Homo sapiens: one gene and its partners. The protein of the gene in region 3 interacts with the protein of the main gene of each other region in a biochemical or structural test. Each region holds a gene or a part of one and is shown on either strand. Other genes may lie near its edges.

Region 1 (10,404 bases), on a different chromosome or scaffold from region 3:
CAAGGTTGGATTCCAACATTCCAGCAATAATGCTCTATAATTCTATGATTCAAGTCCACACAACATTAAAAACCAAGGGAATACTAAAATAATAAGGGGTATGGGTTTAAAGGAAAGCAACAGACCAGGCACAGTGGCTCACCCCTATAATCCCAGCACGTTGAGAAGCCAAGGTGGGAGGATCGTTTGAGGCCAGGAATTCAAAACCAGTCTGAACAACACAGTGAGACCCTATCTCTACAAAAAAAAAAAAAAAAAAAAATTAGCCAGACATTGATGCACACCTGTAATCCTGGCCTTTGGGAGGTTCAAGTTACAATGAGGAGCTGTGATCAGGCCACTGTACTCCAGCCTGAGCAACAGAGCGAGATCCTGTCAAAAAAGAAAGAAGAAAGAAAGAAAGAGAGAGAGAGACAGACGGACGGACAGACGGATGGATGGACGGAAGGAAGGAAGGAAGGAAGGGAAAAGAAAGAAAAGAAAGAAAGAAGGAAGGAAGGAAGGAAGGAAGGAAGGAAGGAAGGAAGGAAGGAAGGAAAGAAAGAAACAAAGAAAGAAAGAAAGAAAGAAAGAAAGAAAGAAAGAAAGAAAGAAAGAAAGAAAGAAAGAAAGAAAGAAAAGCAAGCAACATAGGGAACAGGAAAAACATTTGGAAGACTGCACCAAAGGACCAAAAGCGAAAATTCAACAAATTTTACTTCATTTGCTACTTGGTAATTTAGGAGAAAAAAAAAATTTTAAAGACTAGGCAAACTGGACGGGCACAGTGGCTCACGCCTGTAATCCCAACACTTTGGGAAGCCGACGCATGTGGATCACCTGAGGTCGGGAGTTCAAGACCAGCCTGGCCAACATGGTGAAACCCCATCTCTACTAAAAATACAAAATTAGCCAGGCGTGGTGGCATGCACCTGTAATCCTAGCTACTCGGAAGACTGACACAGGAGAATCACTTGAACCAAGGAGACGGAGGTTGCAGTGAGCCAAGATGGTGCCACTGCACTCCAGCCTGGGTGACAGAGTGAGACGCCTCAAAGAAAAAAAAAAAGAAGAAAGAAAGAGGCCAGGCACAGTGGCTCACACCTGTAATCCCAGCACTTTGGCAGGCTGAGATGTGTAGATCACCTGAAGTGAGGAGTTTAAGACTGGCCTGACCAACACGGAGAAACCCCGTCTCTACTAAAAATACAAAATTAGCCAGGCATGGTGGCGCATGCCTGTAGTCCCAGCTACTAGGGAGGCTGAGGTAGGAGAATCGCTTGAACCCGGGAGGCAGAGGTTACGGGGAGCCGAGATCGCACCATTGCACTCCAGCCTGGGCAACAGAGCGAGACTCTGTCTCAAAAAAAAAAAAAGAAAGAAAGAAAGAAAAAGGAATGATACGAAGGTACAAAAATACAAAGAGTAAATAAGAATCAGAGATTGGTTTGGTTAGAGTGGACAGCTCCTATAAAGAAATAGTGCTGGCACTGATTAAAAAAAAAGAAAGAAATAGTGCTGGCCCCAGAAAAACAGGTTTGAGCAGACTGTTATTAGGCTATGAATTCTGAACTATACTCTGAAGATAACAGAGAGTTATCACTGGTTTCCGAAAAGTGAAGGATGTGTTTGAAGCATAATTCTAAGATTTAGGAAGACATACTAAGTAGAGAGAAAAATCAAGCAAAAAACCCAATTAAAGGCTAGTGAGTAGTTCAAAGATAAAAATGGCTGGCAAAAATCAGCCAATATTGTTACACGCATAGAGATAAAACCAAAGTTTGTGTCTGGGTAATTGAAAGCATGGTAATGTCACCAAAACAAAGTCAGCATATGGAATCAGTTTTGAAGGGAAGACTATAAATTCTATCTTCATTAGAGTTTAAGGTGAGGATCAGCCAGACATAAAGTTTCCTTAAATCTTTAAATGTCATATTTAGCCTTGTTGTCTTCCTAACATCACAGTATTTATAGAGAATTTGTTAACTGCTCAGTGATTTCAAAAGTTCCCTTCAATTTTACTTATTAATGAAATAATCATTTAATTTTCTAGTGCAGATAAAGAACATTTGGTATTTTTCTATATTATAAAGGTAAATTCTAAAAATTATTAAACCATGATTTTAAAAATGAACTGTATCTGTATTCATTAAGTCAAGTCTTCCTGACAAGTGATTTATAATAATCACATCAAATATACCTTCAGCTTTGAAAAACACATGGTGAAAAAGTAAAATAAGACAAAGTAAAAGTACAAAGCAATGAAAATGTAAAACTCTAGAAAATTTTTGAAAAATGAATATAGGCCAGCCACGGTGGCGCACACCTGTAATCTCAGCACTTTGGGAGGCGGAGGTGGGCAGATTGCTTGAGGTCAGGAGTTCGAGACCAGCCTTGCCAACATGGTGAAACTCCGTCTCTACTAAAAATACAGGCCGGGCGTGGTGGCTCATGCCTGTAATCCCAGCACTTTGGGAGGCCGAGGCAGGTGGATCACGAGGTCAGGAGTTCAAGACCAGCCTGGCCAAGATGGTGAAACCCTGCCTCTACTAAAAATACAAAAATTAGTCAGGCGTGGTGGCAGGCGCCTGTAATCCCAGCTACTGGGGAGGCTGAGGCAGAGAATTGCTTGAACCCGGCAGGCAGAGGTTGCAGTGAGCCAAGATCCCGCCACTGCACTCCAGCCTGGGCAACAGAGTGAGACTCCGTCTCAAAAAAAAAAACAAACAAAAGAAAAAGAAAAATATATATATATACAAAAAAATTAGCTAGGCATGGTGGCACACACCTGTAGTCCCAGCTACTTAGGAGGCCGAGGCACAAGAATCGATTGAACCCGGGAGGCAGAGGTTGCAGTGAGCCAAGATCGTGCCACTGCACTCCAGCCTGGGCAACAGAGACTCTGTCTCAAAAAAAAAAAAAAAAAAGAAAAGAAAAAAACCCAGAACCATGAAGTATCACTAAGTATCTCTTTTCTTTATTATTTTCCTTTTTAAATTTTTTTATATTTTCTTAATTTAGAGACAGGGTATCACTACATTGCTTAGGCTGATCTCAAACTCCTGGCCTCCAGCTATCCTCCCGCCTTGGCCTCCCAAGTGCTGGGATTACAGGCTTGAACTACCCCGCCTGGTCTCCCTCAGTATCTAACAAAACATTACACATAGGTTTTTTTTGTTTCTGTTTTTTTTTTGTGTGTGTGTGACGGAATCTTGCTCTGTTGCCAGGCTGGAGTGCAGTGGCGATCTTGGCTCACTGCAACCTCCGACTCCCGGGTTCATGCAATTCTCCTGCCTCAGACTCCCGAGTAGCTGGGATTACAGGTGCGTGCCACCACGCCCGGATAATTTTTGTATTTTCAGTAGAGACGCGGTTTCACCGTGTTGGCCAGGCTGGTCTCGATCTCCTGACCTCGTGATCCGCCTGCCTCGGCCTCCCAAAGTGCTGGGATTACAGGCGTGAGCCACCGAGCCCGGCCAACATTACACGTAGGTTTCAAATTTTATTTAGATGGACCTGAAAGCACTGCAGAAACCTGGACAAAGGATAATGCCTAGAAAAATAAATACACATTTTATTTATTTTTTTGAGACGGAGTCTCGCTCTGTCGCCCAGGCTGGAGTGCAGTGGCGCGATCTCGGCTCACTGCAAGCTCCGCCTCCCGGGTTCACGCCATTCTCCTGCCTCAGCCTCCCGAGTAGCTGGGACTATAGGCGCCCGCCACCACGCCCGGCTACTTTTTTGTATTTTTAGTAGAGACGGGGTTTCACCGTGTCTGCTAGGGTGGTTTCAATCTCCTGACCTCGTGATCCGCCCGCCTCAGCCTCCCAAAGTGCTGGGATTACAGGTTTGAGCTACCCCGCCTGGACTCCCTCAGTATCGAACAAAACATTACACGTAGGTTTCAAATTTTATTTAGATGGACCTGAAAGCACTGTCAAAACCTGGACAAAAGATAATGCCTAGAAAAATAAGTACACATTTTAAAATTTAATACATGAGCCAACAGCTGAGTAGATGTGAACACTCTGCAAACTATGTTTATGGATATTACAGCCAATTTCCACAGATCACAATTTTCCCAAAGAAGTCTCAGAGTTTGTGGTCAAGATGAAAAGAAAGCACCATTTATCAACCAGTGCATATTACTATCAAGTTGTGAATGGGATGCCTATTTAAGAATATCACAGACTCCACCCCCCACAAGAAAATTAAGTGTTTTAAAAAGAAAAGAACGAATATTATTGACAATTACCAAACAAAACTTTCTTCTTAGGTTATTTCTCCGTTTACTGTGTGACCTCGCCGAAGGCTGAGAGTCTAGGCACACTGGTTTCCAGGTGCTGAAGAAATCGTTATAGTTGGTTTGTCATACGTCTATCAAAGTAAAATTTTAAAAATGAGTACCTTTTGGCAACACCCGTTTTGGGAGGACATTGAGCTGCTTTGCTCCCTACCCAAAGAGGAGTTAGGAAATTCTCTTTAACCTAATTCTTTCCTAATTTCTAGGGCTTCTTACCTAATCTAACGTGCATAATTATTTTCAGGTGACTCCGGGTCCATCAGTTTGACACCGAGAGCGTTCCTACGGTTACGTCCTCACCCCTGAACAAAACCCAGCTTCCTGAGCTTCTAACGGCGAATTTAACTTGTATGTTAATACAGAAGAAAGGTTACAAAACCTATCGAAATGGTTTTTTGTTTTACCAAACATATTACAACTCAAGTCAAAAGTTCACAGCCCCAGCAACTCGCGTACGAATCTGAAGCAGGTCCAGACCATTAAAGTCACAGCCCCAGACTAGAAAACGGCCGGTGGGTGGGGGGAGGGGAGAGGGCGCGTCCCGAAGATGTCCACCCGCAGCACCGCGCAGGCTGACGCCTCCCCTCCTCTCGGGCTGGAGGTGAGAGCGCCCTTCCTCCTACCACGTCCCTACCTTCCCGGCCTCGGATTACGCCACAGCTGGCAAAAGGACTTTTTCATGAGAAAACAGACAAGTCAACCAGCGCGCCGCACACTCGACCTCCCAGGCTCGCACGGGCGGCCGCCCGGGCTCTCAGCCCGACACAGCGCTCCAGGGGCTGACAAGGAGGCCGCGGGGTCACGCTCCCTGGGGCAACGGCCCGAGGGTCTCGCGGAATCCCGGTGCAGAAGTCTGGACCCTCCGAGCAGCCTCCGCGCCCCCTCCGGCTCGGCTCCGAGCCTGCAGACGGCGCCCCCGGGGCTAACTCAGCGCGAGAAGAGGAAGCGACGCAGCGAGTAACAGGCTGTATGGACGGACAGCGGACTGAAGGGGGGTGTGTGTGTGTCTGCCTGCCAACAAGGCCGTCTCACCTTCCCGCTGCCGAGCCGGGCAGCTCCAGCTCACCTGAGGAGGGCTCCAGGACGCCACTGCGGCCGCCGTGATGGCCGTAACGGCACGAGGCCTGCGCTCCGCCGCCGCCGCGTAGCTCTTGGGAGAGAGGCGGGGCACGCGCGGTGGGCAGGCGGATCCGCGCGGGCAGGAAACCCACTCTGGACCCAATCTGATAGGTTCAGTCGCCCCCTTCCCCGGTCCCTGACGCGACAACGGTCTCTGCCGCACTGGGATTGGGCGGGCCCTCATGTCAATCAAGCGCCGTGCCTGATGTGGAGGGAGCGGAGGCTGCGCGGCGGAGAGTAGAGAGCTAGAGGGTGAGAAGCGCTGGGCCGGACCAGAACTGTCTTAGCTTTTCCCTCTGCGGCTGCTCTGGTTGGTTACTTTGAGCCTGCCTCCTCAGCGCCGCAGGAGAGACTTAACAGCAAAAATGACTGTGTCCTGAGTTCAGCCCCCACTGCTCTGGGAGCTTCCCCCTGGTTTCTGCACCTGAAGAATGTCATCCCAGCCGAAGGTTCTTAGGAGCGGGGAGCGACAAAGAAAAACAAAGAAAAGCAGACCTGAAAATTGGGACCTGGGAGAAATGTAAGACATGTGCTTAATTTGAGGCACAGACCAAAAGAAGCTGAGTCTGAGGGCCCTCTAAAAGTGTCCTCGTGCTTGGGCAGCTTACATTCTTGGCGGCAGTAGTGTTATGAAGAGGACCTTCGGAGCCAGGTCTGTCCATTCTTAGGGCTCCAGCCACTGGCTGAGGCATCAGTAAGTTGGTTCTTCCCCTCGCCGGTGCTGCAGGCCCCCTTCCCCGCCCCCGCGCCGTAACCTGCCTCTTTTTTTTTTTTTTTTGAAACGAGTTTCGCTCTGTCGCCAGGGTGGAGTGCAGTGGCACGATCTCGGCTCACTGCAACCTCCGCCTCCGGGTTCAAGCTATTCTCCTGCCTCAGCCTCCCGAGTAGCTGGGATTACAGGCATGTACCACCACGCCCAGCTAATGTTTTTGTATTTTTAGCAGTGACGGGGTTTCACCAGGATGGTCTCGATCTCTTGACCTCGTGATTCGCCAGCCTCGGCCTCCCAAAGTGCTGGGATTACAGGCGTGAGCCACCACGCCCAGCCGCCTCATCTCTTCTTAACCATCTTTGTGGCACAGTTTAGGATCGCTCCTCAGGGAAGCTTGCTCAGTTAGGTACCTTCCTTGGAGCACAGGTGTTTTCTCCATCCGAGCTATTGAAATGGTTTGCCTGTATGTCTACCTAGATTGTAAACTCCGTTGAATCAGTAACCATGTCTGTTCAGTTTCTCCCTAGGGCCTTGCAGTAGGGTAGATGGTCAGTAAATACTGTTTAAGGCATTAATACTTTTTATTTTAATCCTGGCCCTGGATATCAGCCTCAAAAGTTTGCAGTTTTCTGCATTTAACTTCAAAATTATTTACGTGATTGGTAATGCATGCATGTGGTTGGCCTGTGCTGTAATTTAGATGTTTGTTCCCCTAAACCTCCTGTTGAAATTTGATCCCCAATGTTGGAGGTGGGGACTAATGGGCAGTGTTGGGTCATGGAGGTGGTTCCTTCAGGAATAGATTAATGTCCTCCCTGGGGAGAGGGTAAATGAGTTCTCTTTATTTCCACCAGAGCTGGTTAAAAAGAACGTCGCACTTCCTTTCTTCTTTTGCGTCCTCTCTGGCCATGTAATCTCTGCACACACCAGCTCTCCTTTGCCTTCTGGCATGAGTAGAAGCAGTCTTAGGCTACCATCAGATGCAGATGCTCAGTCTTGAACTTTTCCAGACATCAGAACCATAAGCCGAAAAACCTTTTCTATTTCTAAATTATCCAGCTTTGGGTATTCCTTTCTAGCAACACTAAAGGGACTAAGACAGCCTGCCATATGTAGGATCACAAGGTCAAGCACAAATTTACCTATTTATGCTGTACTATCCTCAGGTTGACTGGGACAAGTAGACCATGAAACTGGGCAACAGCTACTCTATGTCTACATTCTGTTATTAGCATCCAAAGTGAATAATGGCGGTGAATTTTGAGTTTATTCTAAGGGTTTAAATAACTGCATATTTTATCATGACTGGTATGGACTGAATTGCATCCCCCCCAAAAATTCATACTGAAGCCCTCACTCCTAATGTGACTATATAAATGTTCCTTAACTTACAAAGGGGTTATGTTCCAATAAACCCACCATAAACTGAAAATACCTTAAGTTGAAAAGATCTTAAGTCAGAAATGCATTTAATGCTTCTAACCTACCAAACATCATAGCTTAGAGTAGCCTACCTAAAACATGCTCAGAATACTTACATTAGCTTTCAGTTAGGCAAAATCATCTAATACAAAGCTTATTTTTTAATAAAGTATTGAGTATTTCATGTAATCTACTAAATACTGAATGAAAAACTGGATGGTTTTATGGGTACTCAAAGTACAGATTCTAGAGTGCATATGGCTTTTGGACCATCATAAAGTCAAAAAAATCTTAAGTCAGGGACCATCTCTAGTTGGAGCTAGGCCTTTAGGGAGGTAATAAAAATTAAATTAGGTCATAAGGGTGGGGCCCTAATCCCATAAGATTAATGTCTTTATAGAAAGTGGCACCAGAGAGCTCTCTCCATTTGAGAACACAGCAAGCAGACAGACATCTGCAAGCCAGAGAGAGAGCCCTCACCCAAAACTGACCATGCTGGCACCCTCTTTTGGACCTCCCAACCTACATAACTTTGAAAAAATAAACTTCTGTTGTGTAAGCCACCCAATCTAGTATTTTATTATGGCAGCCCAAGCTAATACAATGGTTTTATTTGTTGATACATTTTATAAAGTTTACAGACTGAGATATTATATTCATTTTTGAAGAAACTTGTCCAGAGTTAAAACTGTTGCTGCAAAATCACCCATCAAACTGTTAGCACAGCGTGACTCAATTTTAATTCTAATTACATATTTAACATACGATGGAGGCAGAAGGTGTGAATATAAATACAACAGGTAAAATACAGAAATACAGTTCTTGCCTTCATGTAGCTTACCACCACCTTAAGTGGGGAAAATTAACCCAGCAAAAAGTATGCTGAAGTCATACATTTAGGGTTTTTGTTTGTTTGTTTGTTTTTTGAGATGGAGTCTCGCTTTTTTGCCCAGGTTGGAGTGCAGTGGCACCACCTCAGCTTATTGCAACCTCCACCTCCCGGGTTCAAGCAATTCTCCTGCCTCAGCCTCCCAAGTTGCTGGGACTACAGGCACACACCACCACACCTGGCTAATTTTTTGTATTTTTAGTAGAGACGGGGTTTCACAATGTTGGCCAGGCTTGTCTCAAACCCCTGACCTCAGGTGATCCACCCACCTCAGCCTCCCAAAGTGTTGGGATTACAGGCGTGAGCCACAGCACCCAGCTAGTTTATCCTCTTAATTTTCCTTCTTTAATCTTTCTCATCACTCATTCTTAACAGGAACTCTTTAAAAAAATTTAAGAAACCTCCAAAAATATATGCAAAAGAGGAGTCAAAGAAGAAAAATAAGCAAACAGCAATGAAAAAGGAAAGCATAGACTGGAAGGGCAGATAGGCAGAAAGGCATGTATGTAATTGCACTTAGAAGGGATGCAGTACATGTTTTAATGGGGTGGGAGCTGTCCCAGAGACTTCCTTTCACACAGTCTGTCTCCCCAGCTTCCAAATATAAACATGCACATGGCTGCTGCTTCCTCTCTTTCAGGGGAACTCAAACCAAAAACAGGAATCATCCTTGCTAATTAGTGCTGAGTGGATCAGGGACTAACCAGAATCAGGCAACAAGAAAATGTAAGTCAAAACTTATGATCAGCCCTGGCAACAGAGCTAGACCCTGTCTCTACAAAACAAAATTTTTTTTAATCAGCTGGGCATAGTGGCATGTGCCTGTAGTCCCAGCCACTCTGGAGGCTGAGGTGGGAGGATGGCTTGAGCCCAGGAATTTGAGGCTGCAATGAGCTATGATCACACCACATCTCAAAACAAAAACAAAACTTATCTAGGGACTACACGTGGAGCTTTGGATATGGGCAGCTAATCTGTCTATGATTAAAAACACGCAGGTGGCTTACTTTATTAATCCAAAATAAAAGAATTTGGGAACACAAGAAAGGGAAAAATGAGCCTCCATGTCAAGACCTTTCCCAGAAACCTGATAGCTTATAGTTAGAAATTGTTATAGACAGTCCAGTGCAAGGAGGACATTAAGCCACAGGGGAAAGGAGTTGTGTGGCCAGGTTAGTCAGGCAATTAACTAGAAAAAATCTGTCCACATAGAGGAGCCTGCATAATAAAAAGGTATTAAACGATAGTAGAATATTGCTAGAGCAGAAGATAGCTAGAAATATAATCAATAACCAGGTTATGGAAGTCAGGCACCTTAGAGTTTATCCTATAGGCAATGAGAAGCCATTCAAAGGGTTTTTGTTTTTGTTTTCAGCACTTTAAAGATGTCATTCTCGTTTTCCAGCCTCCATTATATCTGTGAGAAACTAGTTGTAATTCTTATCATTGTTTTCTTGTATGTCTTATGCCTTTTTCTATGAATGCTTTTAAGATTTTGTTTATATTTATCAAAAGTTAACACTGATGTTTCTAGGTGTCTTTTTCTATGAATGCTTATAAGATTTTCATTATATTTATCAAAAGTTACACTGTGATGTTTCATTACACTGTGATGTTTCATTACACTGTGATGTTTGTTTTGGTTTTGGTTTTGTATTTATCCTGCTTGGGGTTCATTTCATTCCCTGGGTCTGTGGATTGCTGGTTTCTCATTTTCTTTTCTTTTCTTTTTTTTTTTTTATCAAATTTGGAAGACTTTTGTCCAGTATTTCTTCAAATTTTTTTTTCTGTCCCATTCTGTTTCTCCTCTTCTTCTGGGACTACAATTACACTCATGCTAGACTTCTCAGTACTTAGTACAGGTCATTCAGGCTCTGTTCATTCTTTTTTCAGTTTGTATAATTTCTATTGAGAGCCACTGTCTAGTAATCCCTGAAAAAATCTAAATGTTGACATTTTCCCAAAGCACAGTACCCTGCT
Region 2 (10,603 bases), on a different chromosome or scaffold from region 3:
GAAGAGTCTTTGGGTCACTTAATGAGAACTTGGGTCAGAGAGAAAGGAAAGGAATCCTGTGTATTATAGGTGTGATTAAGAGCCTATATTCCAACAATGTATCTTCTTCCATAGGCTTGCCACTTAATATTAACGCACTGCTTTTATAGTGGAGACTTTGGAAGTACAACAGTGAGGCAAAACAAAATCAATAGAGCTTCCCTTAAACATTTTTTGTTGGTGGCCAGTATAGTATTCTATTTAAAAATTAAGTTTTACAGTCTGTAAAATATACAGGACAATGACTTTTTTAAAATGTAAGTTAATACCTCCTCCTCACTTGTCTTAATTGAACTTAGGTGTTTATTCTTAAAGGTGGACCTTGATGAAAATGTTGAGATGGGAAGTGTTATTAGGCAAAACTTGTTATAGATTTCTCATATAACCCTTAATTGACCCTTAGAATTTTAACAACCGGCCGGGCGCAGTGGCTCACACCTGTAATCCCAGCACTTTGAGAGGCTGAGGTGGGCGGATCACCTGAGGTCAGGAGTTCGAGACCAACCTGGCCAACCTGGTGAAACCCTGTCTCTACTAAAAATACAAAAATAAGCCGGACGCGGTGGCACGCGCCTATAATCCTAGCTACTTGGGAGGCTGAGGCAGAAGAATCGCTTGAACCCAGGAGGCGGAGGTTGCAGTGAGCCGAGATCGTGCCGCTGCACTCCAGCCTGGGTGACAGAGCGAGACTCTGTCTCAAAAAAAAAAAAAAAAGAATTTTGACAACTTTGTTGAATATCAAGAAAAAAAGATTTGGTTCATATGTTGACAGTCACTCTGGACAATTCAGAGGTTTTTTTTTTTTTCCTTCCCCCCACCCCAGAGATGGAGTCTCGCCTTGTTGCCCAGGCTGGAGTGCAGTGGCGTGATCTCGGCTCACTGCAACCTCCGCCTCCCGGGTTCAAGAGATTCTCCTGCTTCAGCCTCTCTAGTAGCTGGGATTACAGGCGCATGCCACCATGTCTGGCTAATTTTTGTATTTTTAATAGAGACGAAATTTCGCCATATGGCCAAACTGATGTCGAACTCCTGACCTCAGGTGATCCGCCGGCCTCAGCCTCCCAAAGTGGTGGGATTACAGCCGTAAGCCACGGTGCCCGGCCTTTTTTTTTTTTTTTTTTTTTTTTTTTTTTTTTTTTTGGATAAGCTTCTTTGGAGCATTTAGAAAGTTCTGAAACTAATTAGGAAAAGATTCTGTTACCCTAATCCATTTTTGACTTAAGGCTACATCTTTTGATACTTAAAGGGGAAAAGTAAAGTTAGTCATATTTATGCCAGCCAACGGGATGTAGTATTCCACTTTTTATATTCCTCAATAAAGGATTCAAGTCTTTCGTCAGAGTTTGGTTCATATTTTAATGTCTTTGTAATGCAGAGTCCCTGGGAGTATTCTGGGAGTGTTAATTCCAATTTTGCTGGGCGCGGTGGCTCACGCCTGTAATCCCAGCACTTCGGGAGGCCGAGGCGGGTGGATCACCTGAAGTCCGGAGTTTGAGACCAGCCTGACCGAGATGGAGAAACCCCGTCTCTACTAAAAATACGAAATTAGCCTGGCGTGGTGGCGGGTGCCTGTAATCCCAGCTTCTTAGGAGGCTGAGGCAGGAGAATCGCTTGAACCCGGGAGGCGAAGGTTGCAGTGAGCCGAGATCCTGCCATTGCACTCCAGCCTGGGCAATAAGAGCTTAACCCCGTCTCAAAACAAACAAACAAACAAAAAAACAATATTACAGCACTGCTTTTGAAAAAAATAGTTCAATTTTTATTAAATGCTAATAGCATGCTTGGTACAATGGTTATGAAAAACAATGCAACTTTTCATACTGAAAGAATCTAGTCTTATGCTAGTTTATAACTAAATTAGGTATATTTAGGATATTGTAGTTAAAAAAAACTGTTTTTAGTAGACTTCTTTTTTTTTTTTTTTTTTTTTTTTTTTTTTTTGAGAGATGGAGTTTCGCTGTTTCGCCCAGGCTGGAGTGAAGTGGCGTGTTTTCGGCTCACTGCAAGCTCCGCCCCGCCCCTCCCCGCCTTCAGGTTCAAGCGATTCTCCTGCCTCAGCCTCCTGAGTACCTAGGATTACAGGTGCCCGCAACCAGGCCTGGCTAATTTTCATATTTTTAGTAGAGACAGGGTTTTGCCATGTTGGCCAGGCTGGTCTCGAACTCTGACCTCAGGTGATCCACTTGCCTCCCGAAGTGCTGGGATTACAGGTGTGAGCCACCGCGCCTGGCCCAATAGACTGTTTTTTAGAGTAGTTTTAGGTTCTCAGCAAAATTGAGGGGAAAATACAGGGTGTTCCCATTAAATTTTTAGTAATAAACACGATTGGGCTGGGGGTGGTGCTTCACGCCTCTAATCCCAGCAATTTGGGAGGCCAAGGCGAGTGGATCACTTGAGGTCAGAGTTCGAGACTAGCTTGGCCAACACGGTGAAACCCCGTCTCTACTAAAAAAAAAAAATCAGCCGGTCGTGTTGGCGGGCGCCTGTAATCCCAGCTACTCTGGAGGTTGAGGCAGAATTGCTTGAACCAGGGAGGGGGCGGTTGCAGTGAGCCGAGATCTGCCGTTGCACTCTAGCCTGGGCAGCAAGAACGAAACCCTGTCTAAAAAAAAAAAAAACACCATGATTGAGTACTTATGAAAAATTGTGAGAAATTCATTGTGTGGGATTTTCACCATTACTACATGTATTTGGAAATAAAAATTGTATGACTATGTATATGAAACTTGTTCATGTTCTAAAAAATACCCTCCATTTATAATATGTTTTTAAAATTTGCCACTGAGAAGTACAAATTTCCTTCTTATTTCATCTTAGTTATCAACCCAGAGTCACTGGAGGCAATGCAGTGTAGTGGTTAAGCGTGCAGATTCTGAAGTTAGACAAGATTTGGGTTGGAATCCTGACTCTGCCACTTACTAGCTGGGTATTCTTGGAAAGGTCAGTTTCCCCATCCGTAAAATGGGGATAGGAATGGTACCTTCCTCATATGATTGTTTTTTTTTTTTTAAGATTTAATGAATACCTTGATGTATTCGTCACAGTACTTGGGCATAGTAAGTGTTCGATAAATACGTAGTCCCCTGTGCCCATAACTGTAATATTTTACTAGCACTAAATTGTCTACTAATTCTTTTGGTTAGAGAATCTCCCTTGTTAAATGACTATTTTACAGAATGTTTTGAACTCCAAATCAAGCCTACCACGATTAATTATATTAAGAATTTTATTTTAACTTTATAAGGGCTTCTAGCAGTAGGTTAAGCAATTTTAGAGGTGAAATTCAAGTGTTCTCTATAAATTCCTATTCCTGAATGTAGATATTCATATTTTTAAGTGGAAGGAAAAGCCTTAAAGACATTTTCAAATAATATTTATCTTTTGTAAAAGTATTGAAGAAATGTTGGACTAAATACTGACTATGAGTAACTGGTCCCCTTAGTTATGGATAGCATGGTATTAAGGGGGTTTAGGTCACAGGATTGAGTCCACAAGTGGCTTGTTACTCGAGTGTTCCATGGTCAGGAAGTTAGTTCAACTTTGTTCCCAGTTTTGTGCTATTGATCACAAAAGAGTCAAATGACAATATGTAGATACACCAGTGCAAATAAATTAACACTATTAATTAGTATTTTGTACCTTGTTTTTCTGTGTACGTGGTGAATCATTAGTCTCATTTTTATTACTGAGCATTTTCATTAGTTTGGTTGAGGCTGGAAATGTTTATGTAATTTGTACTATTTATTTGAATATTTTTGAAAGTTTTGAGAAAATTATAAAAATAAAAAAAATTCTTCCTCTCTATTTCTCTACTATAAAAGTTTCTATATCTAAAACTGTTAACAGATTTCTTTTTCGAGAGAGAAAAGGTTAAATTAAAGAAGTTTGTCACTAGTACTCCATAATTTTTTGGAGTTTCTTTTCATGGTTCTCATTTTTTTTCTTCTGCAGGGTGAGGGGCAGTGGTGGTAAAGGTATATTGTTTGTGTAGTGCACCATCAGTTATATGTAGAGATTTTTAACTGTGAGTCTGCAGTAGCAAGTGGCCATTGGTGAGAATCCAACCCACAGATATATACTGCTTGCCCTTAGAGTATTTGGAATATTTGATAATTGTCACCATTTAAGAATAGAGATTTCTTTTCTTTTTCTTTTTCTTTTTTTTTTTTTTTGAGATGGAGTCTTGCTCTGTTACCCAGGGTGGTGTGCAGTAGTGTGATCTTGGCTCACTGCAACCTCCGCCTCCCGGATTCAGGTGATTCTCCTGCCTCTGCCTCCCCAGTAGCCGGGGTTACAGGTACACACCACCATGCCTGGCTAATTTTTGTATTTTTAGTAGAGACGGGGTTTCACTCTGTTGGCCAGGCTGGTCTCGAACTCCTAACCTCAGGTGATCCGCCTGCCTTGGCCTCCCAAAGTGCTGGGATTACAGGCGTGAGCCACCTCGCGGCCAATAGGAAGATTTCATATTTAAGAAGTCTCAACTTCTAGCATCTCTAGAAAACCCACAGGACTTGGCTATACCTGGTGGCCATTCCTGCTTGAGACTAGATTGCCAGAGCTGAGTAGCGGTTGACCCTTTTAGGTGGGTACTGAGGTCTCCATTTGCAGTCTCCACCAGGTCTGCTTTGCCTTTGCTATTGCAGTATTTGCCTGGCATCTGGCCTGGATCTTATGCTGAACCTAATATTCAGACTTCTCAAGTCTGAAACTTTAAGGAAAAGAAAATAAGGAATGTAAATAGTACCTTTCTTTTTTAAAAAAATCATTTTACTGTCTCTACAAAAATAAAATCATTCTTATTAAGTCAAATAATTGGTGAAGGTTAATGTTAGAACATGTAGCATTCATTAACTTTGTCACTGATTGCATTATACATATGGGTGAGCCATTGTTTCTTAATAAAAATGGGGGTGAGACTTGCTAAGATTAGTTACGGACAATGATTGATGACCAGAACTCATATTTTTTACTGTATTTGTATAAGTAGCAGAGAAATATAGTAGGTGCTTCAAGGGTTGCAAGAGTAAAATGCCCCTTTTCTCAATGGGAGAAAAGGGAGTATTAGATCTAGTAGGAAATTAAGTAAACCAATTACTGTGATTCAGGCTAGGTTAAGATAAATATCACGAGTGAAGTATGAGCAAAGGTCATGAGGGTTAAAAGAAAAAGAAATTTGTGTAATTAGGATCAGTAAATTCTTTGAGGAAAAATAGCAGGTATGTTTTTCCTGCTACTTAATTTATTTTCTGAGCAAGAGGTTATTGGTTCTGATGCTCTTCGCTTAATGATTCTATCAGGAAAACATAATTATGAATTAGATGAGTTTAAACTTTTCACCCTTAGTGAAGAGTCTGGTCTACAGAACTTTTAGTTACCTGTGGTCTGGAGGGAAGTTGACGGTGATGTCTGTAGTGACTGAGGTACAGAGCACAGTTGAATGCTAGAATCGGTATGGATCATTGATTAGCCACTCTGGGGAAAACAGGCAAACATTACTGGCAAAGCTAAAAAGGACAGCCATAAATTAGGAAGGGAAAAGGAAAAACGAAGAGTAGACTTTCTGGTTGCTTTACTTCTCTCTCTTTACTGGCCATTGGTGAAATGAACAGAGTCCCTTTAAGAACACTTAAATACCCAGAAAAGTACCTTTTGGGAAGAAGATTTTTTATAGTGATTATTAACTATAACAATGGTTACCACTGACATTTTTTGTTGTTGTTGCTTACTGCCAAACAGGAACAGTTCTAATTGGTTTATTTGTATTGTTTTGGTTATCTATTGCTGCATAATAAAGCACTCCAAAACATAGTGGCTAAAACAATTGTGTATTTGCCCTTGATTCTAAAATTTGTGTATGGCTTTATGGTGACTTCTCCACATGTGATCTGTTGGCTATAATGTCCACTGTGGCTTCTTAACTCATAAATCTAGTGCCTCAACTGGGATGGCTGGAGCAGCTGGTAGATGGCTGGGCATTTCCCTCTCTCTTCCTACCCATGTCGTCTCTCCACTTGAAGAAGGTTGGCCTTCTTTTTTTTTTTCCCCCCTGAGATGGAGTCTTGCCCTGTCGCCCAGGCTGGAGTGCAGTGGTATGGCTCACTGCAACCTCCGCCTTCCGGGTTCAAGCATTTCTCCTGTCTCAGCCTCCCAAGTAGCTGGCATTACAGGTGCGTGCCACCACGTCCAGCTAATTTTTGTATTTTTCATGGAGATGGGGTTTCACCATGTTGGCCAGGCTGGTCTCGAACTCCTGACCTCGTGATCTGCCACCTTGGCCTCCCAAAGTGCTGCGATTACAGGCATGAGCCACTGTGCCCAGCCAGCTTGGCCTTCTTCATAGCATGGCAGCTATGGCAGTTCCGTGAAAGACCTTTCCAAGCCCTAGTGTGCCGGTATTTATCAAGCTTCTGTGTTCCTCATCCTTGCTAATGTTCCAATGGTGAGTGCTGGTCACATAACCCAGTGTGCATTAAATATGGGAGGGGACTATAAAATGGCATGAATACAGCAAGTTGAGCTTTCCTCAGGGCATCAAAGTAACAGTACCATGTGTATTACTTATTTTCATGTAATACGAGATAATAGAATACTAGTAGTGAGGGACAGGCTGGGAGATAGGACAAATACTTATGAGTTCTTCCTTCAGGCCCAGCAAGCTAAGTTGTCTTTTGTTAAATGAGTCAAATTTCTCCACAATAGATGTTGCTTTTTGGCTACCATTACCTTAATTTTAAACCAAAAATACTGAATACGGATGTTGTTTATTGTTTGAATATGCAGGTATTTCTGTGTTACCTTGAAATCACTGGCAGTACATTTCAGTTTTGTGCTGCGTTAAAAATTGTTGTTATTAGATACAACTTATTGATAACTATGTATGTCTTGTCACATCTCTACAGGATTTAGGGTATGATGATTTTAGGTGTTTTAGTGGTTATGTGATTTAGTGAGTAAAATAATGAACAGTATGGGGGACAAAAAGAAATATACAATTCTACAGTCTAGTTGGAAGATGAGGCATTACTGGTAGGGAAATAAGATGATAAAAGTAGTCTACAGATACGTTGTGCAGGTAAATTTTTCAAATTCAGAGGATAGTTGCCAAAGAGTGAAAGAATGAAAGTAAATGAAAGAATGATACTGAAATTTCATACCATAATTCTCTTGAAGGAAATTTCAGTATCATTCATTTAGGATTATTACAGTGAGAAAGTGTGATTAACTTTTGTAACATTTGTGTTTCAAATTGTAGTCAAGTTGTTATGTGTAACATAGAGTTTTAGTTACAGAGGGAAGCTTCTCTGCTTAGATACAGAAGTAGCCTTAGGTAGAGTGACTTGCTTCACTCCACCCTACACCCTAGCTAAGTTCATATAACTAGGTAGTGGTAGAACTGGGACAGAATCCGATTCTCATACTGTTTCACATATATTTAGATTTGAGTAATATTTATAATTCATTTTTTTTTAAATTTTAGAGAGGACTAGAAGCAAAGGCTCAGTATTTGCTAATCATTTGCTAGATGTCAGGTACTTTATATAGATTATCTTATTTAATTCTTACAATGATATAGTGAGAATGGGCATCATCCTCATTGTTGAGGAAACTGAGTGATAGAGCTGGAATTTTAATGTAAATACTATGCTTTTTATTTTGTCTTGCCCCTTTCCATTACGTAGAATGTACACACATATATGCACCCAGATAAAACTTAACGTACTTCAGGGCTGGCAGTAACTGGCATTTTGGACTTAATAGTTCCCCCCTGTCCCCCATAGTCATAGGTTGAAGCCTTAACCACCAATGTAACTGAATTTGGAGATACAGCCTTTAAAAGAGGTAATTAAGGTTAAATGAGGTCATAAGGGTGGCTGGTGAATCCTATAGGACGGGTACCTTTATAAGAAGAGGTACCAGGAGTATGAGTGCATCAAGAAAAGGTCATGTGAGGACATGGTGAGGAGGCCTTCATTTGTCAGCTAAGGAGAGAGGCCTGACCAGAAACCAAGCTTGCCAGCACTTTGATAGTTCAATTTCCAGCATGCAGAACTGTGAAAAAATAATTTCTGTTGTTTAAGCCACCCAGACTCTGGTATTTCGTCATAGCAGCCCAAACTGACTAATACATGGGTAACTCTACATCTTTAAAAATGGATTTGGATTATTTTGGAACAGATTAAATGCATGTCTGCTGCTTGAGAAATAAGGTCCTCATTCTTTTAATTTCTTTCACTGTGGGAGAGAAAATCTTGCCTTACTTTACCTCTTTCTTTGTTAGTCAGTGACCTTTATCTTTTTTGATTGTACCTCTGTTGAAAGATGGAAAGCATATTTAAATGCATGTCTGATTATTATAGTGTGGAAAGATCCTACACATGACCATGGTAGCCATGGAATATCCTATGGATAAGCTGTTACTCCAGCAAATTTTCTGTATTCAATGTGTGTTCATTGTTGTAACATTTTACTTTAAAAATTTCGCTAATACATCTGTCTCAAGCTAAGGGAAAGACTTAGAGATCTCCCTCACCTCTTTTAAGTGTTTTTTGTAGGAATAACTTGCTAAACTGGGTTCATATTAGACACTTGTGTAACGATAGACCGTATCTCACCTATATTCTTTTCTATCTAAATGTTGATTCATTTCTCTAATTTTTAAATCTTTTTATTTTGAGGTAATTGTAGATTCATATGCAGTTTTAAGAAATAAGACAGATGGGCCGGGCGCAGTGGCTCACTCCTGTAATCCCAGCACTTTGGGAGGCCGAGGTGGGTGGATCACAGGGTCAGGAGATCGAGACCATCCTGGCTAACACGGTGAAACCCCGTCTCTACTAAAAATACAAAAAAAAAAAAAAATTAGCTGGGCGTGGTGGTGGGTGCCTGCTACTCGGGAGGCTGAGACAGGAGAATGGCGTGAACCTGGGAGGCAGAGTTTGCAGTGAGCCGAGATCATGCCACTGCACTCCAGCCTGGGCGACAGAGCGAGACTCTGTCTCAAAAAAAAAGAAAAGAAAAAGTAATAAGTTAGAGATGTACTTGTTCATCCATTTTACCTCAGTGGTAACATCTTGCATAACTATAGTGCAGTATCAAAACCAGGACATTGACATCGCTGTAATCCACCTATTTTGTTCACATTTCACCAGTTTTACATATATTCATTTGTGTGTGTGCATGTATGTGTGTGTGATATATTTAGTATTTAGTTCTATGCAGTATTGTAACATGTAAATTTGTATAATCATTACCATACTAGAGATACAGAAGAGTTTCTTCACCACTAGAATCTCTCATGCTGTGTTTTATAACCAGAGTGTCTCCTTCCTCTTTCCTTATTCCCTGGTAACTGCTAATTTGTTCTTTTTTTTTTTTTTTTTTTTTTTTCCTGTGGTCATTTAAAGAAGATTATGCGGGCTGGGTGCAATGGCTCATTCCTGTAATCTCAGCACTTTGTGAGGCTGAGGCAGTTGGATCGCTTGAGCCCAGGAGTTCAAGACCAGCCTGGGCAACATGGCGAAACCTTGTCTCTACAAAAAAAACAAAAATTAGCTGTTCGTGGTGTTGCACACCATAGTCCCAGCTATTCAGGAGGCTGAGGTGGGAGGATCACCTGAGCCTATGAGGTTGAGGCTGCAGTGAGTTATGATTGTGCCATTGCACTCCAGCCTGGGTGACAGAATGATAACCTGCCTCAAAATGGAATCAAATAGTATGTAACCTTTTGGGATTGGCATTTGTCACTCAGCATAATTTGTCAAGTTCGTGTAAGTTGAAGTATCAATATTTTGCCCTTTTTTCATTGCTGAATAGTAGTCCATGGTGTAGATGTGCCACAGTTTGTTTAACCGTTCAGCCATTGGGGAACATTTGGGTCATTTCTAGTTTTGGGTATTATAAAAAAAAGCTGCTATAAACATTTGTATATATGTTTTTGTGTGAACATAAGTTTTCATTTCTGTCAGTTAAGTCCCCGAGAGTACAATTACTGGATTGTATGATAGTTGCATGTTCACTTTTATAAGAAATTGCCAGCATTTTCTATAATGGCTATATATTTTTACATTCTCACCAGCAATGTGTGAAAGATCCGGTTTCTCTGTGTCTTAACCAGCATTTGATGATATCATTTTTTATTTTAGCCTTTCTGTTTTTACTGATATCTCATTGTGATTTTGATTAACATTTTTCTAATGTCTAATTATATTAGTCAGGGTTCTCCAGAGAGAATCAATAAGATACATGCATATATAAAAGGGAGTTTATTAGGGAGAATTGGCTCATGCCATTACAAAGTCAAAATCCCACAATAGGTCATCTGCAAGCTAGCCAATGAAAAAAGCTGGTACCACATCCAAGTTGGAAAGCCTCAAAGCCAGGAAAGCTGACAGTCTGAGGCCAAAGGCCTGAGACCCCCAGGGAGGCTGCTAGCCTGAGTCCTGGAGTCCAGAGACCAAAGAACCTGGAGTTTGATGCCTGAGGGCAAAAGCAAAATATCCCTCACTAGAAGGGGATGGGGAACTCAGCACGCTGGCTCTGTTTCTCTTACTGCCTGCTTTGT
Region 3 (10,748 bases):
AATATGCAATAAGGCTAAAATTCGTTTTTTAAAAAAAGACTTCCCATTTTTTTTCTCTTGGCTAATGTAGTAGATTAGCTATGTTATTTTCAAAAATTTGCATTAACTCTAAATAAAAAACAGAATAACATTTGTAAAAAGAAAAAAGATTAGAGAACACAAAGGCTTCAAACTGAGATACAATAAATTTTTTGTCCAAAATTAAATCCCAAATCAAGAAAACAACCTTTAGATCTGTTGTTTTAGCAACTAATAATCTGCTGTGCACATTTCAGTTGGTATTTGGAAAACATTTAACTCTGTAGCTTTGTAGAAATGATATTCCCACTTGAACATAGAGGAAATTGTACTTATTGAGAGTTTAACTCAAGAGTTAGTGCACAACAAAAGTTCATTAGTGCCCATTTCATGTTCTGGAAAGATAAAATATCAGCATCCTATAGAGATGTCTTATTTGTATATACAGCATTTCAGAAATCAATGGGATACTCAAAAGATTAAACAGGAACATCCTTTACTTATGGAACACAGGATAAAATAAATCTAAAATTAATTGTCATACATCGTTTTTGAATGAGAACCAAATGACCTATCCTACCACCTCTAATTGTGAATACAGGTTTTTCAAGAGTGTACCTTCTTCCTCATTTATTTCTAATTGCCAGGCATTGCCAAACAAAAGTTAATTCTGGAAATTCTTGTAAATGAAGAGAGGTTTTTGATCAGAGAAGGTGTTGTTTGAAACAGCCAGAAGATCCAGCTTGCAACAATTACGGACAAGCTACTGTGTCTTAATATCAAGCTAAAAATTCCCTGGTCCACTGATGCAAGACTTATTTTACTCAAATTGTGAACAAAAAGACAAGTGGTAAATTAGGAGGGAAAAAAGTGAAGCAACTTTTATTAAATACCATGCAACCATCTGGCACCACTCCGCAAAGTTGATTATTGACTAACTTTAATAGCAGACATTTTTGTCTATTCCTTTAAACATTTTGTGGAGGAAATGTCCTCTGTATTGGGGGGGGTGGGGGGACAGTTGGAGGTGGGGGGCAGATAGTGGTTGAGTGTGAGTTGGAGGGTAGAAGGAGGAAATTAAAAGATGCATTGATAAAGCAGTAGGGTACAGGAGTTATGCAAGCAATAGTTTATGTAAAGCCACAGAGAGAGTGGCTTATGCCAGAAACAGCAGGTCCTTCCAAATTTCTCAAGCTTTGTCCTTGCTAACAGTAAGCAAGCCTAGGAGGGGATGCTTGAAGAACCTGGTAAGCAACTGCCCGGCTCTCCCACTAACAAGTCCATGGATTTCTCAGTTAAGGTTACTTAAAATTGCAAAAGCTATTCACTTGCTGAAGATTGTCAAAAATCACTGAATTTTATAGCTTTAAGAGAGAATCTTACAGATCAAGAAGTCCCAAGCCTGTATTTTTCCAGATATAATCATTTAAACAATCCTAACCTTTGTGAGGAAAGTATAGGAGGCCAGGCAAGGTAGACAGAGCTTGAGGCCTTGGCAGTTGCTTCCTTTTGATCTCTAGGGGAAGGGGGTGGGGGTTAATATGTATTCATTAATTAATACCAACATTGTATTGAAAAAATTGCAATTAGTCAATGATAATGGGTTCTTCTGAACATTTTACATGACAAACAAATATTCTTAAGTTTAATTTCAAAAAGACGTGGAGTTTCTTTCTATTTTTTTTTTTAAGATGGGCCTTGCTCTGTGCCCTCAAACTCCAGTCTACAATCTCAAACTCCTGGGCTCAAGAAATCCTCTTGTAGTAGCTAGGACTACAGGCATCTCTCACTACACCTGGCTAGTTTTTTTTTTATTTTTTGTAGAGACTGGGTCTCACTATGTCTCCCTCCTCAGCCACCCAGAGAGCTGGGATTATAGGTGTAAGCCACTGTGCCAGGCCTAGCCCTGGAGTTTCTAATACATTGGTGATACAACTCTGAGATTTCTAAGCATGGATTTGTAAATGAAGAGCTGGAGCTTAATTTTTCTAATTCACACAGCACTGTTTCAACATTGTCTTATTCAGTGGTTCTCAGCCTGGGAAAGAAGGAGAAAGGTGATTTTGCCCCCCAGAGGACATTTGGCAACATTTGGAAACATTTTGGTTGTCATGACTGGGAGTGTTATAGGTATCTAGTGGATAGATGCCAAGGATGTTGCTAAACATCCTACAATGCACTGGACAGTCTCTCAAGGAAAAATGATCTGGCCCAAAATGCCAACAGGGTTGAGATTGAGAAACTCTGGTCTAATCTGAACACTCTGAATATTATTAAAACATATGGTGAGATCAAGAATTTATTACTGCATTTTCGTTAATACCAATTTGCTCAAAGGCAGTTTGAAAAACAGACCCTGACTAAAATTGCATGTGCGTTATACAGGGAAAAAAATATGACACATTTGTGATTTGAAAAGGAAAAAAAGCTGAAGGGAAAAAATTAGATATTTTTATTCATAAGAGCATTGCCATACAATTTTCAATGCTCCAGAAAAATAACCTTCTTCCATTGACACTGTGCTGAAAGAAGTGAGTAACAAAATGGTTATAAACTATCCTTCTCACAAATTCTAATCTATTATCAGACTGTTATTTCTAAAATATATTAATACACCATCTAAAAAACAGCCCTCTTATCAGAAGCTATGATACATAATAAGTCAGAAGATAAATGCACCAGTAGGAATTTATTATAATTTTTTTAATTTCTCTGGATTACAGGGCACGTAAACTCTGTAGGAGGTGCTTATTGGAGAGTAATTCTGTGATCCAGAAGACACTAGAATGTGTTCAGCCATTTAGCACCCACCCACCCCCTTTCTTTTCCCTTTCCTGGTAAATTTTCCTTTATGTTCATAAGGACAGATGCCATTGCTGTGGGAATCACTCTGGTTTAAGCCTCTTGAGAAAAACAGTAGCTAACTATATTAGTCCGTTCTCACACTGCTATAAAGAAATACCTGAGACTGGGTAATCTATAAAGAAAAGAGGTTTAGTTGGCTCACAGTTCCACTAGCTGTACAGGAAGCATTATGATGGCATCTGCTCAGCTTCTGGGGAGGCCTCAGGAAACTTACAATCATGGCGGAAGGTAAACAGGGAGTATCACCTCACGTGGCCACAGAAGGAGCCAAAGAAAGGTGAGGGGGAGGTGCCACACACTTTTGAAGGACGAGATCTAATGAGAACTCACTCACTATACAGTACCAACTGCGGGGTCGGGGGGCAGGGGTGGCAGTGGGGGTGGTTGCTAAACCATTCCTAAGAACTCTGCCCCCATGATCTAATCTCTACCTCCCACCAAGCCCCACCTCCAACACTGGGGATTACAGTTCCACATGAGATTCGGGCAGGGACACAAATCCAAGCCATATCACTAACCTTATCTAAATACTGGCCAATAGGATAAGCAAAATCATTTTTATAGCTTCCTTCAAAAAATCTTATGTATTAAAATGTTGAAATGTATAAGAATTTCATCAAAATAAGAACCTCACCAGATCTGACCCAAGGGAGAGAAGATTGTTCAATAAAAAATTACAAATGGATGAATAAATGAATCCTCTCCTTTCAAGTTCTGTGCTCCATACAACAAATCTAGATGGGTCTCATTTAGATGGGATTTAGAGACACCTTTCTTAAATACCTATCATTTTACGAATGAAGCTGTTGTCTAAAGAGTCCTCTTGGCCACTTCCTGAAAACAAATCAATTATTTGTGATAACTCTCAAATGTCCTAATAATCCCATGGAAAATGTAAATGTAATGAGGACCAAGAATTATAAGGTAAGAAGTGCTAATGTCAGATTTTTACCCACTACATAAGCCCACTCTTGTACTAGGGCAGTGACTTTCTTCTTTGGGTGAGACCTTGAAATCTGGGATTATAATTTTGAATTATAATTATAAAATGGTATTTGGCTGTAAATTATCTCCTTTTTTTTTCTGTTCCTCACAGTTGATATTATGGATTCCCATAAGGATTCATGTCTTCTATTCACTTTAATGAACAGTTGTTGGGCAACAATTCTAGAAGAGTTCCAATTCTCATCAGGAGAATGGACAAGGTGGAGAAGCAGAGAAAATGCAATGAGTAGAATGTCTAAGTCATCACTTTGGAATTGACTGAACATAAATAAAAATGAGAAAGATACGTAAAAAAGAAGGGAATGGGTAAGCAGGGTGATGTCTGGGAGAGGAGGGGCTCCATAGCCATGAGAGTCAACTCTGTAACACCCTATAGGGTTACAACACTGCCCTTCATATACTGAGGTAGCAGCAGGGAAACTTTTTAATTATTAGAAATATTGAACTTTGCCTCCCACCCCCAAACATTTTTCTCATTCAGTTCCTGTTCTTTTTTATTTCTGTAATTTTTACTGTTTCAAAAATGATCTTTTTTCTTTCGGAAGAAGCAATTCTTCAAATCCAGTTCACATAAGGGGATTTGATATGTTCAACAAGCTCCAAATACACTGTATCCAGCAATACCTACTACATGCCTACTTTGAGCTCTGAGCAACCTGCACCTCAAGCCTAGTTCTCATTGTTTTGCTTTTGGCAAATTTTCACTAAGTGCCCTTCCTCCCCAAACACACGTATATGTCTACCAGACCCTAAAGCCCTTTATGAACATGCAAACTCCTCCCTTCTGAAAACCTTTGCGTGAGTGGTCAGCAGGCTAATTCATCCATTGCAATGTGGCTTTGTGTTAGGGTTCTGTTTCCGTGCTGCCTGCAAGATAATCACAGATGTGACTGCATCTTAGAAGTTCCTGAATCTTTCAAGACAGTCTGGTTCACAAGAAAATTAAAAGGTGGAGGTCGGGCGCGGTGGCTCACGCCTGCAATCCCAGCACTTTGGGAGGCCGAGGCGGGCGGATCACCTGAGGTTGGGAGTTCGAAACCAGCCTGACCAACATGGGGAAACCCCGTCTCTGCTAAAAATACAAAATTAGCCAGGCGTGGTGGTGCATGCCTGTAATCCCAGCTACTCGGGAGGCTGAGGCAGGAGAATCGCTTGAACCCGGGAGGCAGAGGTTGCGATGAGCCGAGATCGTGCCATTGCACTCCAGCCTGGGCAACAAGAGCGAAACTCTGCCACACACACACAAACACACACACACACACACACACGGTGTAGTTTAGGAAGTAAAAAAAAAAAAAAAAAAAAAATCAGATCTCCCCTCACACCTCAGATCTGAAGGCACAAACTCTAGGGCCAGGGCGTTCGCCTACCCAACTCCACATGCACTTGCAGGTCACCTAGCACTCAGGTACCTAGCACTCAGGTACATTGTGGCTCCTTACCTCTCACGACAGCAGCAACAACGTTGATTGGAAGTTTATCACTGTGTGTTACGGGCCATGGGCCATGTGTGTTAGAATTTTATGTGAAATTAACATTTAATTCTCACGGACACCCCTGAAACAGATGCCACAGCCCCCATTTTGCCAACGAGGCAGCTGAGGTTCCCAGAGGCTCAATACCAGCACCATGAGCCGCAGCACGCAAGGCAAACACAGCCGGAGGTGAGCACATACCTGCTTCGCACCCCATGCGCCTAACCACAAGGTTCCCTCCCTCCAGGAAGGCCGTTGTCTTCCCTGGGACGACTTGCCAGCTCTGAGGCATGACAGTACGGGCCCCCAGAAGGGTGACCAGGAGGCCCTCCTCGTCCCAGCTGCCGGCGTCGCCGCCCACTGCAGGGCCCGGGCTGTGACTCGTGGGGACGGTTCCCTGCGCCCCGGCGGGGGAGGTGGGCGGGGAGGGGCGGCGGGGCGCCGGGGCGGGGCTCGGGACGGCCGGGCTGGGAGCTGGAGCCCACAGCGGGAAGCGGCCGCCGCCCGGGCCTCGCAGGGCTAGGCGAGGCGAGGGGGGGCGGGGCCGGGCGCTACGGGAAGGGGAGGCCGCGCGGACCGGGAGCCGCACCGCGCCAGCCGGGCTGCAGCGGCCGCGCACCAAGGCTGCGATGGGGCTGGAGACGGAGAAGGCGGACGTACAGCTCTTCATGGACGACGACTCCTACAGCCACCACAGCGGCCTCGAGTACGCCGACCCCGAGAAGTTCGCGGACTCGGACCAGGACCGGGATCCCCACCGGCTCAACTCGCATCTCAAGGTGAAGCCCGGGGCGGGCGGGCCCAAGTCCCCGCTGAGGCCGGGAGGTGCGGGCGCCCCTCAGCCCCGCCCTAACCCGTCCCACCATTGCTACCGGGTCGGCCCCGCAGGGTCTGAGACCCGCACCCTTCCCCGGTCCCACCCGTCACCAGGCCGCCCGCGTAGCCAGGAATTCTTAGCCAGGTTCCTGTGCGCCCACCGTGACCCTAAGAGAAGAGGCGGACGCCCTGGCACGTCCTTCCCTCCTGCTTCCCCCGCCCAAAGCGCTCCCGGTTCCCGGGGCGTCAGGTTGGCTGACAGTTCGGGGTCCCTGCGTCCTGTCTCCTCAGCTGGGCTTCGAGGATGTGATCGCAGAGCCGGTGACTACGCACTCCTTTGACAAAGTGTGGATCTGCAGCCATGCCCTCTTTGAAATCAGCAAATACGTAATGTACAAGTTCCTGACGGTGTTCCTGGCCATTCCCCTGGCCTTCATTGCGGGAATTCTCTTTGCCACCCTCAGCTGTCTGCACATCTGGTGAGACGGGGCACACCGGGTGGACCGGCTTTCTGAAACATGGGCATATTCTCCGCCACCTGCCCCCTACTCTCCTCTTATCCCAGGCCGGCGTCAGGAGGAGGAACGCGCATCAGTTCCCAAGCAGTAGGAAGAACTGGAAGGCCTTGAAAGGCAATGCGCTTCCTTTAGAATAACAGTTTGGGCTTGGAGTTTCAACAGGAGAAAGAATGTCGGTCTTTCCTGGGGTGTGATTTTCCTTGCATACATAAGGCTGGGCTGAGTGTGGAGGCGGGTACCTGGAAGCCACACTTCTTACCACAGGCTGCTCTCGGGGCCCTGTTGTGACTCGTACCTGCGGTTCTGGGCAGGACTCTTCTTTCTTTCATTGCCTTTTATTCAGTCACTGCCTGTGCTTGGGGTAAAACAAAAGTGATCTCTGAGCAGAATGCCGCTGACAGTAGAATTGGATGAGGATGTCAGACCTGGTTAAGCAGTAGTGTGGAGGGGCTGCTTCAACTTTGCCCCTGGCAGATGGCAAGGATGGGACCCAGAGGAAAGGGAGGTGTGTGCAGTTAAGGCGAGGGTCCCCCCCAGTACAAACGAATGAAAACTCCAGCTGCGGGATAATGAATGAGAAGGCCTCCAAATTACTTTTTCACTGATGAAACACAAATGGAAGTGGCATATAATTAAAGGGGAAAGAAATATGGAAGCCCACTGTATATTGATAGGATATTTTGAGTAACTCTATTCATACTCAAAATGTGTCCTAAACTGTAGAGAACTTTCTTAAGCATCTTTTAAATTTTTTATGGAAAATGTCATATTTTACCAATAAATGTTGTTGTGTTAGAAAATATCCACTTTAATCTGAGAGGAAGAATATTCAGATCATCCCCAGTATCACAACAGTTGTCACGCTAGTGCTTCAGGTTAGTCCTGGTGAAAGGTATAACCCAAGGTACCTCCGTGTCTTTCTTACACCTTTTATGATATTGCCACACCCTGATAAATACTCGGTGTTCATTGTTAGAAGTTACCAATTTATCCTTTATTTCTCTATACCACCTGAATCTTAATTTATTTAGTCAGTTAGCTAGCTAGTTAGTTCAACAAACTTTAAATTGATTGAGTGCTTAGTTTGTGCTGGGCACTGGGCCAGGATGAATGAGAGATAGGGTCTGCCTTCAGCTTACTCACAGCCTTATCAGGGCAGCTGGCTAGGTACAGAGATGGACGCTGAGAAAACACAGTCAACTGACAAAGAGGGAGGAACAGACAAGGCTTTGAAGAGTGAAAGGAGTCGAAAAAGACTTTGAAAGGATAAATGAAAATTCACCAAATACGTAAAGGATACACAAAGAACACCAATTTAATTTTATCACTAAAGGTTGTAAACAATTAAACTATGTTGAAGGTGCCAAGATTGCCAGGGAAATGAAAATGTTGCCTTAGTACATGATCAGCTTCATGAAGGTCAAATGGATAGTTATATTCTGACATTTGCACTTGAATTTTTTTTAAGATCCCTGAGTTGGCACATAAGATTTGGGATTCCCAATTAACTAAAACTAATCATCTAACCTCTATGTCAGTTTTCTCACTTTCAAAACTGTGAAAAACTGAGTGACCGCATAGCATATTGTGAAATGCTGACTATGAAGCTATTTGGAAATGTGAAGTACCATATTTATAGTCAACAAAGCTAGGCTTCCCAAAGCTTTTGTGAAAGAATTTGAAAAAAAAAAGTTTCTCATTTACTAAGTGGTGGAAAGATATAAGTAAAACTACAATTAACCAAGCAATGCCTCTCTCCAGCTGGCTCTTCTGAGAATGGGAGGTGTTTTTGTATAGTGCTTCAATTGGTGAATCATCAATGCACCTTTTTTTAGCCACATAAAATGTATTATTTAATATTATTTAACTTCAGCTTGTTTTTTTAACTATATTTATGTGGGGCATTAATATTTAACTGTAAAACATTTGTCACCAGGCAGCTGTGATTGCAAGTAGAGGAGTAATTTCAAACAAGAATGCTTAAAAGTTAGCTATGCCTTGATAAAATAGGTTTATCATTAATAGATTGCATTCCCATGACATGATAAGACCAGATCAAGGACAGACCTTACAGAATTGCAAACCCATTTGGGCAAGCTTTTTTTGTTTTGTTTTCTTTTTATATATATTTTTTAAAGCAGGGGCTTGTGTATTGTTTTTACCAAAAAGTTAGTGGTGACCAAAGCTAGGAAAATATGCAGTAGTGGAACTTTGAACCATGTCACAATATTAAAACAGGTCAGATTTTAGATCCTTTAAACAAACAATCAACAACAATAAAACACAGAAGTCTGGTGGTGTTGGATCCTAGACCAGAAGTACGGGCCATTAGGAATCAGTGAATTAGTTGGATTCCATACTACAGTCAGACAGAGATAGCTGCTGTTTGTTAAGCACAGGTTATTGGTCATAAGTGGATCATAACCAAAGAAATGTGGCTGGAGCACCCATATCCCTTATTTTTGCTGGAATGCAAAGCAAACAAATGCCCAACTGATGGAAATGCGATAGTAGCAATCTCATTTCTAGAAGACAGTTTTCATACAGTAAATTGCTATGAATGCAGTCTGCATGACTCTACAATTACTACAACACTAAATAAAAGTCTCTATCCTATGGCCTTATTATCCAAGGATATATATTATCCAAGGAATATATAACCTTACATATATTAATATATATAATATATATATATTATAAGATTTACTTAAGAAGTATTGGCCACATTCAGCCTCAACCAAATTTTGGGTCAATCAGAACTGCCTGGAGTTTCAGAAGCTAAACTATTTGTGATGTTGAGAACCCAACTTAAGTTTGATGTCGGAGGATCATTAGATTCTCTGCTCCAAAATGAGGGAACACAAGTAAACAAAAATAAAATCCAAATGAGTTAACAACACCCTATAAACTGAACTCCTCGAATGTGGGTAACTGCTTTGCTGAACAAGAAGATTCACTTTTGACATGTGCTAAATTCCCTTTTAGGACATGGAGATCTAAGGAGTCACGGAGATAGAAAATTTGTTAGCCTAAGGAAGAATAGAAAGTACATTGTATTCTGGCTGGGAGCAGTGGCTCTCGCCTGTAATCCCAGCACTTTGGGAGGCCAAGCTGGGCAGATCACTTGAGGTCAGGAGTTCAAGAACAGCCTGGCCAACATGGTGAAACTCTGTCTCTACTAAAAATACAAAAATTAGCCAAGCATAGTAGCAAGTGCCCATGATCCCAGCTACTCAGGGAGGCTGAGGCAGGAGAATCACTCGAACCCGGGAGGCGAAGGTTGCAGTGAGCCGAGATCACTTCACTGCTCTCCAGCCTGGGCAATAGAGTGAGAACCTGAAAAGAAAGAAGGAAGGGAAGGGAAGAGGAGGGGAGGGGAGAAGAAAGAGAGAAAGAAAGAGAGGGAGGGAGGGAGGGAGGGAGGGAGGAAGGAAGGAAGGGAGGGAGGGAGGGAGGGAGGAAGACAGAAAGAAAAAGAGAAAGAAGGAAAGAAAGAAAGAAAAGAAGAAAGAAAAAAGAAAAGAAAGGAAAGAAAGAAAGAAAGAGAAAGAAAAAGAAAGAAAGAGAAAGAAAGAAAGAAGGAAGGAATTCTAAGTGAAGTGGATTTGGTTAGGAAACTTTCTGATCTAAACTTCAGCCTTTTAATAGGCCAATTTGAGGTCATCTTGTTATAGTTATTTTCATTATATATTCTGCCTTCAAAATAGGTCTATTTATTATACATTATAATGACAGCATCATACAGGCATTTCAGGGGTACATAATAAATGTCAATCCTCATAGCCAGTTCTGAGAGATCTCCTGGTGTCACTTTAATTTGTAGCAACATGCCCAAGACCACATATCAAGTGAGAAATATAATAGAATAATAAGTCTAAAGTTGCCATCATTGAGGTTTCTATTCAGCTATTTATCTCTGAAACACTTAGTAATTAATTTTCTTATTATATAAAAGTGTTTCATGTATTTAGCACTTGAAATAAAACACAATTTGTGGAGACAGTCAATGTGAATAATTCTATATTCTAAAAATATATCAATCAATCAGAAA

What was found.
Region 1: the proteins of CAV2 (region 3) and NCK1 form a complex in vitro, tested with the Homo sapiens proteins (one study listed by BioGRID).
Region 2: the proteins of CAV2 (region 3) and RASA1 form a complex in vitro, tested with the Homo sapiens proteins (one study listed by BioGRID).

Annotation. Positions count from the first base shown.
Region 1 is NC_000003.12:136,857,264-136,867,667, reverse strand, and holds the start of NCK1 (SH2/SH3 adapter protein NCK1), read right to left. Parts: upstream 5,461-10,404; 5' UTR 5,315-5,460; intron 5,220-5,314; exon of another isoform or gene 4,917-5,219; intron 4,523-4,916; exon of another isoform or gene 4,499-4,522; intron 4,357-4,498; exon of another isoform or gene 4,235-4,356; intron 1-4,234. UniProt on the Homo sapiens protein: Adapter protein which associates with tyrosine-phosphorylated growth factor receptors, such as KDR and PDGFRB, or their cellular substrates. Maintains low levels of EIF2S1 phosphorylation by promoting its dephosphorylation by PP1.
Region 2 is NC_000005.10:87,269,505-87,280,107, forward strand, and holds part of RASA1 (ras GTPase-activating protein 1), read left to right. Parts: intron 1-10,603. UniProt on the Homo sapiens protein: Inhibitory regulator of the Ras-cyclic AMP pathway. Stimulates the GTPase of normal but not oncogenic Ras p21; this stimulation may be further increased in the presence of NCK1.
Region 3 is NC_000007.14:116,493,790-116,504,537, forward strand, and holds the start of CAV2 (caveolin-2), read left to right. Parts: upstream 1-5,948; 5' UTR 5,949-5,992; coding exon 5,993-6,142; intron 6,143-6,256; exon of another isoform or gene 6,257-6,470; coding exon 6,471-6,658; intron 6,659-10,748. UniProt on the Homo sapiens protein: May act as a scaffolding protein within caveolar membranes. Interacts directly with G-protein alpha subunits and can functionally regulate their activity.